Linked DNA regions of Homo sapiens. The protein of the gene in region 1 purifies or fractionates together with the protein of each later gene. This does not show direct contact. Each region holds a gene or a part of one and is shown in the gene's direction. Other genes may lie near its edges. The genes, in order: U2AF1 and SCAF11.

Region 1 (5,406 bases):
AAGTGGATCACGAGGTCGAGAGATTGAGACCATCCTGGCCAACATGGTGGAACCCCGTCTCTACTAAAACTACAAAAATTAGCCAAGATCACGCCATTGCACTCCAGCCTGGAGACAGTGAGACGCCGTCTCAAAAAAAAAAAAAAAAAAGATAAAAAGAGTTTTGAGCAAGCTCAAAGACCCGTGTGCCAGCAGTCAGATGCCCACGTTGGGTGCACAGGCTAAGGCAGCCGGCCCAATCTGGAAACCAGTCAGGCTTTTGCCAGCCCCTAATCTAGCTGATTGGAACATGTTTGTTGATACACCAGCTCTGTGATTTCTCAGGTTTAGAGAACTCTAGAATTTGATAGAGTGGGCCGGGGGCAGTGGCTCATGCCTGTAATCTCAGCACTTTGGGAGGCTGAGGTAAGCAGATCACGTGAGGTCAGGAGGTTGAGACCAGCCTGGCCAACATGGTGAAACCCCGTCTCTACTAAAAATACAAAAATTAGCCAGGCATGGTGGTGCGCGCCTGTAGTCCCACCTACTTGGGAGGCTGAGGAAGGAGAATTGCTTGAACCTAGGAAGTGGAGGTTGCAGTGAGCCAAGATCACGCCACTGCACTCCAGCCTGGAGTGGACAGAGACTCCATCTCAAAAGAAAAAAAAATTAATTAAATTTGATAGAATGATGATGGGGATAGAGTGTAAATTTGCCAAATTTACCCACGCAACAGACATGATTTTACCTAATACATGTGAATTATGAAGAATAAACTGATGAAAATAGTTTGGGAATATAAAACTTAAGAATACTTGCGCCGGGCACGGCGGCTCACACCTGTAATCCCAGCACTTTGGGAGGCCGAGGCAGGTGGATCACGAGGTCAGGAGTTCAAGACTAGCCTGGCCAAGATGGTGAAACCCCATCTCTATTAAAAATACAAAAATTAGCCGGGCGTGGTTGTGGGCGCCTGTAATCCCAGCTACTCAGGAGGCTGAGGCAGAGAATCGCATGAGCCCAGGAAGCGGAGGTTGCAGTGAGCCGAGATTGCGCCACCGCACTCCAGCCTGGGCGACAGAGTGAGACTCCGTCTCAAAAAAAAGAAAAAAAAAAGAATGCTTTCATCAGCAAAACATTGTAACATTCCCTTTACTTGAGGGCGTCCACAATACCGTAAGGTTGCGTGAACTGTCCTACTGAATCTTCATGGTTGCTTGGATTTTAATCACATCAGAAGAATTTGAGAGCATACCATGGCTGGCAGTCCATAAAAGACTAGTTAGGAACATCAGCTTTTAATCATCGACCCTGCTTTCAGGTTTCATTTTAAACTTATAGAAGAGGGGAAGACATCAGTGTGCTTATTTGGCCTTTACTCTAAATCTTAAAAGGAAGAAAATTTTAATATTTCTTAGTTTGAGCCCAGGTGCGGTGTCTCACGCCTGTAATCACAGCACTTTGGGAGGCCAAGGCAGGCGGATCACTTGAGGTCAGGAGTTCAAGACCAGCCTGCCAACGTGGTGAAACCCTGTCTGTACTAAAAATTAAAAAAAAAAAAAAAAATTAGCCGGGCGTGGTGGCAGTCGCCTGTAGTCCCAGCAACTCCAGAGGCTGAGACAGGAGAATCGCTTGAACCCCAGAGGTGGAGGTTGCAGTGAGCTGAGATGGTGCCACTGCACTCCAGCCTGGGCGACAGAGCCAGACTGCATCTTGTGGGTGTAAAAAAAAAATTTGTAGTTTGAGAGTCAACTTTTTCCTCACAGTTTCTGAAAATGTGGCCCTTTTGATGCTGATTAAAGCTGGTTGTGATTTTAACACCTTAGTAGCCAGAATCGAGACTGTCATGGGGACATTTAAAATCTCACCACACTTGACACCATTCACAAGTAGCCATGTGGCTCAGTCTCCTGAGTGCTCCTGCAGAGTGCAGCTCTGCCAGGCTTTTCTCTAGATAATCTCGTGTGTGTTACTGTAGCAGTTTGAGTTTAAACACAAGAGTTCACTCGGTTAACATGTTCTAACCAGCAAGATTTCTGTTGTTTGCAGGTGCCGTGAGCGATGTGGAGATGCAGGAACACTATGATGAGTTTTTTGAGGTGAGAGAACTGAACTCTGTGACTGATAGACCTGTTGATCTTCTGTATCTGTTTGGAAGGATTTAAAATGTTTCTCTGCTAATAAACATACATGAGTTATATCTAATGACACTTTGTAATGTATAACGAGTCTTAAACCACTGTGGTCTCCCTTCAGGAGGTTTTTACAGAAATGGAGGAGAAGTATGGGGAAGTAGAGGAGATGAACGTCTGTGACAACCTGGGAGACCACCTGGTGGGGAACGTGTACGTCAAGGTAGGAGCCAGGGCGAGACGGCGGCGTGGCCGCTTAGTGTGCCAGGGCCAAGGCCAACAGGCGAAAGCGAGACAGTGGTGCAGCCGCTTAGTGTGCCGGGGCCAAGGCCGACAGAGGATGGGGTGCCTGTCGCCATGCACCTTGAGATCCTGGATGCTCAGGCGCACAGCAGGGCTCAGGTGCACTGGCTCGGCGCCTACCAGCTGCGTCATATGTGGCGGTGGCCAGCCCACACGTGCGCCCAGCCAGCAGAACTGAAGGACGGACCGTACACCACAGCCATCGTTATTTCAGTGTAGAATATTTAGTACCTGTTGGTTTAGAAGCTGTGTGGACTAAGGAAAAGTTAGGTTTACTCACATGTTTGGTTTCTTTTTTCTTTTTTAGTGAATAAAACTTTATTTGCCTACACAGCCATATTTGCTCCTTTAACCAGTTGAATTTGAAAAATGAAGGCAACATTTGGCAAAATCTTGGACTATCTTGAAGTTAATCTCATTGAAAATAAAGGATTTTTCAATTATCCTGTAATACTATTCCACCTTACTATACCTGAGTGTGTATATCTCTCTCTGATATACTTGGATTGGTAATTGAGAAAGTCTTATTAAAGCGTGGATGGCAAGCACTTCTGTTTTTGTCTTTTCAGTTTCGCCGTGAGGAAGATGCGGAAAAGGCTGTGATTGACTTGAATAACCGTTGGTTTAATGGACAGCCGATCCACGCCGAGCTGTCACCCGTGACGGACTTCAGAGAAGCCTGCTGCCGTCAGTATGAGATGGGGTGAGTGAGGAGTGGCCAGTGACGTGACTGAGCACAGTTCGGGGCCGTGTGCACACGAGGTAGTAAATGTCTCCTTCCAACCCACCCACAGAGAATGCACACGAGGCGGCTTCTGCAACTTCATGCATTTGAAGCCCATTTCCAGAGAGCTGCGGCGGGAGCTGTATGGCCGCCGTCGCAAGAAGTGAGTATTCCTGTGCCCGTTGTTAAGCTCAGTGGCTTCTTTCTCCCCTCACAACCCTCCCCCTTCCAAAAAAAAAATTTTGGCATAGGTGTCGTTTCTGTTTTTTAAAAGGCAGTGCTTAGAACATAGTACATATTTTTAAATATCCAAATGTCCTCTTTGGAGAAGAATATTCACCTGCACACAGGTAACTTCATTATCCAACTTCTCAAGTAGAGATCAGATCTTAGTAATCAAGCAAGAGGGCGGTTAGCTGGGCAGCCGCGGACATGAGGCTCGTGGTGAAAGTGGGCATGCAGTTTATTCTCCCAGATATTACGAAGAAGAAGAATAGATGTTGTAACCTCCTTTAGATCAGGGATGGCTTCCCTGGGACACATTGGAAGAAGAATTGTCTTGGGTCACAAATAAAATACACTAATGATAGCTGATAACTTTTTTTTTAATTGCAAAAAAAATCTCATAATGTTTTAAGCAAGTTGATGAATTTGTGTTGGGCTGCAGGTTGGACAAGCTTTTGCTTTACATATTTCACATGTCCACTGGGGTTTCTTTTGGTTTTGCTTGTTGGTTTTAGGGCATTTCATTATGTCTTGGGATCGCTGGCATCCTCCCTTCGGGACACTGGCAGAATCAGGCCCAGCGGTCACATCTCTCTGATCCTACATTTAAATGTACGACAGGTCACAGAGCAGAGAAAATCAAGACGTCAGAATCGAACCGATTGAGTTCTGAGTCTGGAGAGGTTCTCATCCCTCTTCTGTTAAACATGGACTAGTAAATAGATGGGTGGCGATTGTTTTATTGTCAGCATTCAAGAAGCATAAGAGAAAAACAGGCCTGCTCTCCCCAGCCCAAAAACCTGATGGACACAGTAGCTATGAGCGCCTGAAGCGTGGGGTCAGTGAGGGTTGAAGATGGTATGTGTCCAGCTCATTTTGATTATGATTTCCTGTGACCATTTGAGTTGGTTCTAGAAGAAGACAGAAGATGCAAGGTATTACACCTGTTCACTTCTAAGTTGCACATTTTTTTCTCCTGAAACTTTTCACACCTGAAATCAGGGTGTGTCTCAGTCACGGCGTGCAGTCTCTTCAGCAGTGTTTTTCCTTATCAGTGCCGTTGGCTTGAGGAGCTGCGCGTGTTGAGAGAGTGGGTGTGGTTCTGTGCTGCGTGCCGTGGTTTGGATGGCACGGTTTTCTTTATTTTCCTTGGTTGCAGGCATAGATCAAGATCCCGATCCCGGGAGCGTCGTTCTCGGTCTAGAGACCGTGGTCGTGGCGGTGGCGGTGGCGGTGGTGGAGGTGGCGGCGGACGGGAGCGTGACAGGAGGCGGTCGAGAGATCGTGAAAGATCTGGGCGATTCTGAGCCATGCCATTTTTACCTTATGTCTGCTAGAAAGTGTTGTAGTTGATTGACCAAACCAGTTCATAAGGGGAATTTTTTTTAAAAAACAACAAAAAAAAAAACATACAAAGATGGGTTTCTGAATAAAATTTGTAGTGATAACAGTATTCTTGGTGTAACTTATTTCTTGTGGAAGTTCTTTAAATTTCTTTTTCTTTATAAATCTGCTAGTCATCTTGGAGGTAAAGATTAATATCCATCCACCACTTTGAGTATAAATGAAATAATATTTTTTATCTTAGGGCATGAAATAAAACACATACCAGGTGAGATCTACATGCTAAATAATCCGGAATTTCTCGAGGCTGTCATGGAAAGCCTTTTGGGGTTTCTTTTCTAACTGGTTAGTGAAGAAGTGCTTAGCTATAATCAGTAGACACGCTGTAGACTGCACTGATGTTGGGAAGAAGGCTGATCTGTGGTGAGACACAGTGGGTGGGCCCGACCCATGTTACCTTCTCGTTCCTGCGAGTTTGTGTCAAGAACCCCATGTGTTCGTGGGAGGGAGCGTGGATGCTCACACGGCACACTGAGGGCCAGTAGTCCGTGTCCGTGTTTCCTTATGCCAATGGCTGTGGGAGACACAGAAGCCTGCGGTGCAGATCCGCCTTTAGACACTCTGGTATTACTTTCCCCAAGCTACTCGGGTGGCGCGTGCTGGTGGTGTGACTATGGTGACAGCCAGCTGACCGGTCTG
Region 2 (7,291 bases), on another chromosome or scaffold:
GTACTTCTTTAAGTACATACTAGATCCATCTAATTATGTCTTTATTAAACTTTGGAATCAATTAGTCAGACTTTAATTGGATGCCTGCCAAGTACTGGGTTCTAAGCTCAGAGCCTTTATTATACTTGTTTGTATCGTACAAAAGGATGTTTTCATGAAACATCCTTTCGGATTAGTGTTTCATGAAACATGTTTAGGGATATGCTGAATTAACATAAATAAAACAAGGTTCTAGTTAAGCATAGCAGATTGAGTACTTGTTTAATGCTGTGATCCCTCTCATCCCAAATCTCTACTAAAATGACAATAAAGGAATGAAAGAAAAGTGTGTTTTTTGTTTGTTTGTTTGTTTGTTTTTTTGAGATGCAGTCTCGCTCTTGTCACCCAGGCTGGAGTACAGTGACACAATCTCAGCTTACTGCAACCTCCGCCTCCCAGGTTCAAGTGATTCTACTGCCTTAGCCTCCTGAGTAGCTGGGATTACAGGTGCCCGCCATCATGCCCGGCTAATTTTGGTATTTTTAGTAGAGCAGGGTTTCACCATGTTGGCCAGGCTGGTCTCGAACTCCTGACCTCAGGTGATCCGCCAACCTCGGCCTCCCAGAGTGCTGGGATTACAGTTGTGAGCCACTGTGCCTGGCCAGAAAGAAGAGTTTTAAGCCACAAAGTTTAAGCCACAAAGACAAGAAAGCTGGAGAGAGGGGGACAGCACATAAGTGTCCACAAAATAGAAAGTAAAACAGTATGAGGGGGATGGTAAATTGTCTTAGCAGAAAGCTGATACATAGACATTTCATGGGAAGAATGGAGTTAAGAATCTCAAGACAGTACACATACCATCAAACCTTAGCAAGTTGAGTTTGGAGGCCTCCATTATCTGTGAAGGCAGAGATATGGGGTGGTTTTGGAAAACAGAATTGGTTAAAAATCTTTAGATCCTGAAGATTCCTGGCTGTGGGTAGAGGAAGGGGAGTACCCAATGAAAGACTGGAGATTTACACTCTAAAATGAGTATTTGAACCAGATTTAAACTTTAGCATAAATGATGGTACAGGAAACAACAGAGAGGGAAATTAAGTCAAATGATGAGGCTTCTAGTCCTCTACCTAAGAGCATTTTTCAAAGCACTGGCAGTCTTGATTATTATAATTTTCCAAAGTAGGAAATAAGGGACATCTTTTGGAAAACTGACTTGCCCAAAAGAAAAGACTTAAAGATAATGTCATTTGAGAGTCTCCCAATGAAGTAACCAGATGTCTGCTTGATCACCCTACAGTGAAACACATTAGCTGAAAGGCTCTGACCACCCATCTACACCATTTTCAATCAATATTTTAGTGTCCAGCAAACAATCAAGGATCTCCAGATGTTTGAGGAAAATCAACATAATAGAGATCAAAACAAAGACAAAAGCAACCTGATGGGACAGACCCAATGCTGAAAAATAGGGAATAACTTTAAAAAACTTAATATCCTCAAAGCCTGAAAGAAGGGATATTTTATCAATGATACAAGAAAAATAATATTTAAGAAAAAGCTTTCAGAAGTTAAAAATATTACAGCAAAAATACAAAAATTCAACAGGAGTAGAAGATAAGTTCTTAAGTCTCAAAGTAGGACTAAAAAAGAGATGATAGGATATTCATTTAAGAGATTCAATATCGAATAATAAAATTTCAGGAAGGAAAAATGCAAAAATTTATTTTTAAAAAAGTAATACAAAGGAAATTTTTTCCGTAATAGTAGAGCACAGGTGTCCAGATATGAAGAAATAATATAATACTTAGTAAATGAAAAAAAAATCATACCAAATACTTCATAAAGTTCTAGAAGTCTGAGGATGACAAGAGAGAGAGTAAAAACAGACCACATAGAGGATTGGGGTTACAGAGTGTCATCAACAATAGTTGGAGTAGTGAAGCAATGCCTTGAAAACTCTAGGGAAAATAATTACTAACCTAGACAATTCTATAACCTATCAAACTATCCATCGTGCACTAACTCAGAATTCCCACCCTTTTCCACTTCTGCTGGAGGATGTATGTATATACTTCACTAAATGAGATAGTAAATGGAAGAACAATGTGAGATTCAGAAAATGAGTTCCAACTCAGGAAAAGATTAAACAGGACAAAGAGGATTATTGGGATAATGACAAAGGACAATCCCAAAATGACTATTGAACAGCAGCTTTGAGAGTTACCAGTTCATATTGGACCAGGACAAAGAAAGAGTTTTGCCAGGAGAGTGGGGAACAAACCTTATGGATGAGTTGTTGTGTTTGAGTGTATTAAACTCAGATTTATACTTTTGTTGTAGTTAGCTAAATTAATGATGGATAATAAGGAAGAAAAGGAAAAGAGAAAACAAAGACATTATTAACCCTAGGAAAATACCTGAATGAAGCTGGCTGGGCGTGGTGGCTCATGCCTGTGATCCCAGCACTTTGGGAGGCCGAAGTGGGTGGATCACCTGAGGTCAGGAGTTCAAGACCAGCCTCACCAATATGGTGAAACCCCATCTCTACTAAAAATACCAAAATTAGCCGGGCGTGGTGGTGTGCGCCTGTAGTCCCAGCTGCTCAGGAGGCCGAGACAGGAGAATTGCTTGAACCTGGGAGGCAGAGGTTGCAGTCAGCCGAGATTGTGGCACTGCACTCCAGCCTGGCCAACAAAGCGAGATTCTGTTTCAAAAAAAAAAAACAAAAAAAACCACACATAGAGTAGTATAAGGGTGTTATTTAGTAATAAGTAAATGTTAGAAGAAACAGCCAAAGGATTTGATGAGTGCTTTGGGGAAGCAGAAATCAAGAGTGGGTATTTCCATAATTTTTCTTTATAAGTTTGGAAGTACTGTTTGACATCTTAAAGTATGTACATGCATTACTTTGATAAAAATTAAATGAAAAGGCGTATCACTGCCCACCAAAAACAGACAAGTAGGGTGGATTTGTGAAACGATCTTCAGGAAACCACAATTTAGACAAATTCACCAGTATCGAATACTTTAGAGATTGCCATTGAAGCTGTTGAGTAATTACCTGAGAATTACCCAGAAATATGTGAAACAGCTTTTGAACTGGATTTTCACATGTAGCATTGCTCAGAGAAAACTAACAGTTCTTTCAGTAGAGAGCATTTTATCTAATGATGGCTTTCTGAGATAGGTTTCCAAATGAAAGAATGCTATGTAAACACTACATACTCGTTAAGTGTTGAGTGAATGCAACCTGAAACAAAACAACTCAGCATCCTTAGGGCATAAAAGACACTATGTAGGTATAGCACAGCAATTCTATGTCTAGCTGAAGGAACATGGTTATTTCTAAGAGTGTTATCTGTGTACCTACCACACATTTTTACTTCTTGCCTCTTAAGCCATTTTAAAAAATCAGCGTATCATCTTTTAGATACAGATTTTCAAAGGGGTAAGGCAGTAAGTTCCGGAACTCAGCCTGTTCGTCTTCCACTAACATTGAAATTACATTTGTTACAGTAGTTCTGAGAGGGACTTGTGCAAAACCAAACAGCTGTTGTATAATAACTAAAAAGGAAATTAGTATGCTATTAAGTAGAAAGTAGGCTATTACCAACTGAACTAACAGAAGTAAACCAAAATACATATGATCTTGCAGTGCAGGAAACAAGCCTCCTAGTTAGTGTGATTTATTTTGAACAATGTCAATAGGCCCTTTGTGAGGCAAGCAAGGGGGAAAATTAAAAGGCAGTTGTCATATGCACTGTGGACAAGTCATAAGCAATGCAGCCACCAACGTTGTAACAGAAAGCTGTTTCAGTCAGCACATCTACTTTTCCATCTTAGTATAAAATTGGAAGGAAAGAACATACCTGAAGTGGGTGCCAGTGGCTAAATGGTAATTTATGGTTAACAAGAGCTGATGGCCCCAGGCCACCTAGTCAGCCCCTGCTTGAGATAGCTACCTGTTTTCTAGATGATAGCTGGAAAAGAAATGTTAAGTGTATTATTGATATTAAATAGCTTGACTTCTTGTGTATACCTTTTGTTACAAGATACTTTAAGTTTGCATAAGGTAGCAGAAAATGTTGATTAGAATTTTAACTCATATGTTGTAAACATAGCAGGTTTGACATACTTCACCCAGTTTCTGTATTGTGGCCTTTTATATTTTACTTGTAGTAATAGCTTAACAAGGTAAGATGAAATCAGCATTTGGGAAAATTGTGTAAAAAATTGTGTATTATTTGAAATACAGCTTTTCTACGTATTTCAACCCTTGCCAATGTGCTGGTATCGATGCTGGTTTACAGCCTTTTTAATAAAAATTAATACAAGGTAACCAAGTCCTTTTATGTCTTTGTACAGGAAACTCTTTATACAGTGAAACAGGAGGAAAGAAAAATGCAGCAATAAAGATAAATAAGGTTTGTTGAAACCAAGAAAAATCTTTTTCTTAGATGATAACACTTTAGGGTTATTTAGTCCATAAATAACCAGTGCTTCAGGTGTATCAAAATATTTAAGTATAACTATTATTTACCTGTTATTTATTTGCTGTTTCACTAACTACTTTTTACTTTTCTAGCCTCAGAGATCAAATTGGAGTACAAATCAGTGCTTCAGAAATTTTTTCTCCAATATGTTTTCTTCTGTTAGCCACTCTGGAGAATCTTCCTTTACCTATAGAGCTTATTGGTTAGTATTTTCTACTTTTAATTTATGCTGTTTATACTTGATGTTTAATAATTATTAACTTTTGCTAGAAATTTAAACTCTGGGCCCAATAAAAACTGAAAGGCCCACCTGGTTGTTTTGCTTTAGTTTTTTTTTGGGCGGGGGGGAAGGTAAACTAGCTCTAGCAAAGAGAAAACCTGTTAATTTTGGGAGCTTCTCTATTGTGCAGTGATTGCCTATGCCAGTGTGCTTTGTTTTCATTAATAAGTTGTTCTATATAAGCTGTTTATATGATTGAGAAGTAGCTTATTTATTAGCTTGTGGGGATGTTACCTAAAGAAGAACCCTTTTACAGCTGATCCATTCATCTTTGAATCCTAGTGACTGGCATGTAGATACTAAGTTGATATTTATGGAATTTGAAGATTAAATTGAGGTTTTAAAATCACGTACAGTTAGTTGAGCCAGCAGCACAGAATACGATTGTGTGATTTAATTTTAGAACTTGGCAAGGTACCAAGAAAAAAATTATGTCTAAGTAGGCTTTTGAAAAGCTGAACTATACCCATTTTTGGTTGCAGTCATCTTACCCTACTTTATTTTCTTCTTTTGTCTTAGGCTTAGTTTCAAGTAGGAAACTATTGCACCTAGAATTTCTTCCTTTCAATAATGAGGATATTACTCTGACTTGACTTTATTTAAAAAATTCTGTCACTTAAGATAGAAATTCAAGGGTTATTTTTAACAATCATATAAATACAACTCTGATTTGCAATATAAAAATTGTACTTATTTTAGGAATGAGTTTATTTTGAAAGTGTTTAAATAGAAAAGAGCTCACATGCTTGTAAGTGTGATTCATAATGCCAGGTACAAAAACGACTGCTATTCTTTGTACAACCTAATTGTTTTTTTGAACCTAAAATTGTGAGATTCTGATGAAGGTCTAAAATTTATCTTTTAGTACAGAATTTATAGAAGCCAGTGAAATCAGTGCATTGATTAGGCAGAAGAGACATGAACTGGAATTGTCATGGTTTCCTGATACATTACCTGGAATTGGAAGGTAAAAATAAAAAATTATTTACTCAGGTGTTTACATGCTAACATGAACAAGATAGCATTAGTACTTAAGTACAAGGGTACCTTATTCAATTGTTATTTTCCTAAGGAAGTTTTGTGCAAATTAAACTTTGGTGTTTCAAATGCCCAATAAAGATTGCTATATAAAGGACCCCTTAGAAAGTAAAGAATCCTTAATTTATCTGTTTAACAAGTATAGCTGTGTATATGCTAGATTTATTTAAAAGGGAGAGAACCCGAATATTAAGATTTATTGTTAGTAATACATCTGTCATCATTCCTCTACTCTTCTCCCATTCCAGTCTTACCTGCGTGCTGTCCGCTGAATCACGCTTTTACCATATTCCTCTCCTCAAAAATGTTTTTCTAAATAACTATTTGATCAAGTGCCTACTCTACCCTGACACTCATGACTTTCTGTAATCTAGTTTTTTATTTCTTAGTTTATTCTTGAAGCTACTAAGATGGTGCTAGATAAATAATATATACTTAAATCAAGCTCCTAAGTAAAGATTAGGGTCGCTGCCTGAGTTTTATATTAATTCCTATAACATATTATGACTTTATTTTATATGTCACTATAATATAGTTCTGTATAGGGCATTCACCCTCTAAGAATGATGGCAGAACATAATAGAAGTCAGATGAAGAATTCCAGATGTATGTACTATGAAACCCTTCCTTATAGTTACATATTTTTATACATGTACAAGTTACATTTTTTTTCCCATGCTTCTCCTACTCCAGAATCTTACCTTATATTGAATCAGATAGTCTTTTGTTAGGAGACCTAAATGAATAAGAAAAAGAAAGCCAAGAAGTGGTTTGGGTTTGAATGGAGAAAATTTGAAGGAGGGGGTCTTAACAGGTCTCTAGGGACACTGAGAACTTTGAAGAGCCATCACCAGGTCGAGGAATTTTAGAATATAACATAGTGGTATAAATCAGTTCCTTGGTTGCCTGGAAAGGAGGGAGAAGGATACAAAGGAGTGTGAGGACACTTTCTAGGGGGGCAGAAATGTTCTCTTTCTTGATTGGGGTGGTGGTTAACACAGACATATATATATATATATGCACACACTTTGGTAAAAAGTTAGCAAATGTACGCTTAAAGTCTGCATTTTATGTTGAATTACACCTCAAAGTTGATTTTATTTTTTTAGAGTAGTGAAGAACATGATGAAAGCTGGAAAAATTCTTGACAAAATACTACATAAATTATTTCAAAGAGAAACATCTGTGTTAAGTTGCTTTCATCTTTTCTTTGCCATGAATTTATCAGAAAAACATACTTTTAAAGGTTTTTTTCTGAATTTTAGCCAATTGGTAGCTATCTTTAGACAAGGAGTAACCTTGAATTTACATTTTTAGCTATTTGGGCAAAAAACATTTAAGCACTGTATTTTAATATTGCTAACCTGATTTAGAGAATTAATACTTTTAAATTGGTGGTTTAATTTTTTAAACCATTTAAACAAAAATGTCTTTATTATGTTTTCAGAATTGGTTTTATACCCTGGAATGTTGAAACAGAAGTCCTTCCTCTCATTTCTTC

Evidence for each region.
Region 2: the proteins of U2AF1 (region 1) and SCAF11 purify together in Homo sapiens (affinity purification with mass spectrometry, with the first as the bait; 2 studies listed by BioGRID). This does not show direct contact.

What each region holds. Positions count from the first base shown.
Region 1 is NC_000021.9:43,092,366-43,097,771, reverse strand, and holds the end of U2AF1 (splicing factor U2AF 35 kDa subunit), read left to right. Parts: intron 1-2,028; coding exon 2,029-2,078; intron 2,079-2,235; coding exon 2,236-2,334; intron 2,335-2,983; coding exon 2,984-3,117; intron 3,118-3,208; coding exon 3,209-3,301; intron 3,302-4,522; coding exon 4,523-4,670; 3' UTR 4,671-4,816; downstream 4,817-5,406. UniProt on the Homo sapiens protein: Plays a critical role in both constitutive and enhancer-dependent splicing by mediating protein-protein interactions and protein-RNA interactions required for accurate 3'-splice site selection. Recruits U2 snRNP to the branch point.
Region 2 is NC_000012.12:45,931,559-45,938,849, reverse strand, and holds part of SCAF11 (protein SCAF11), read left to right. Parts: intron 1-4,344; coding exon 4,345-4,403; intron 4,404-4,564; coding exon 4,565-4,674; intron 4,675-5,617; coding exon 5,618-5,719; intron 5,720-7,237; coding exon 7,238-7,291. UniProt on the Homo sapiens protein: Plays a role in pre-mRNA alternative splicing by regulating spliceosome assembly.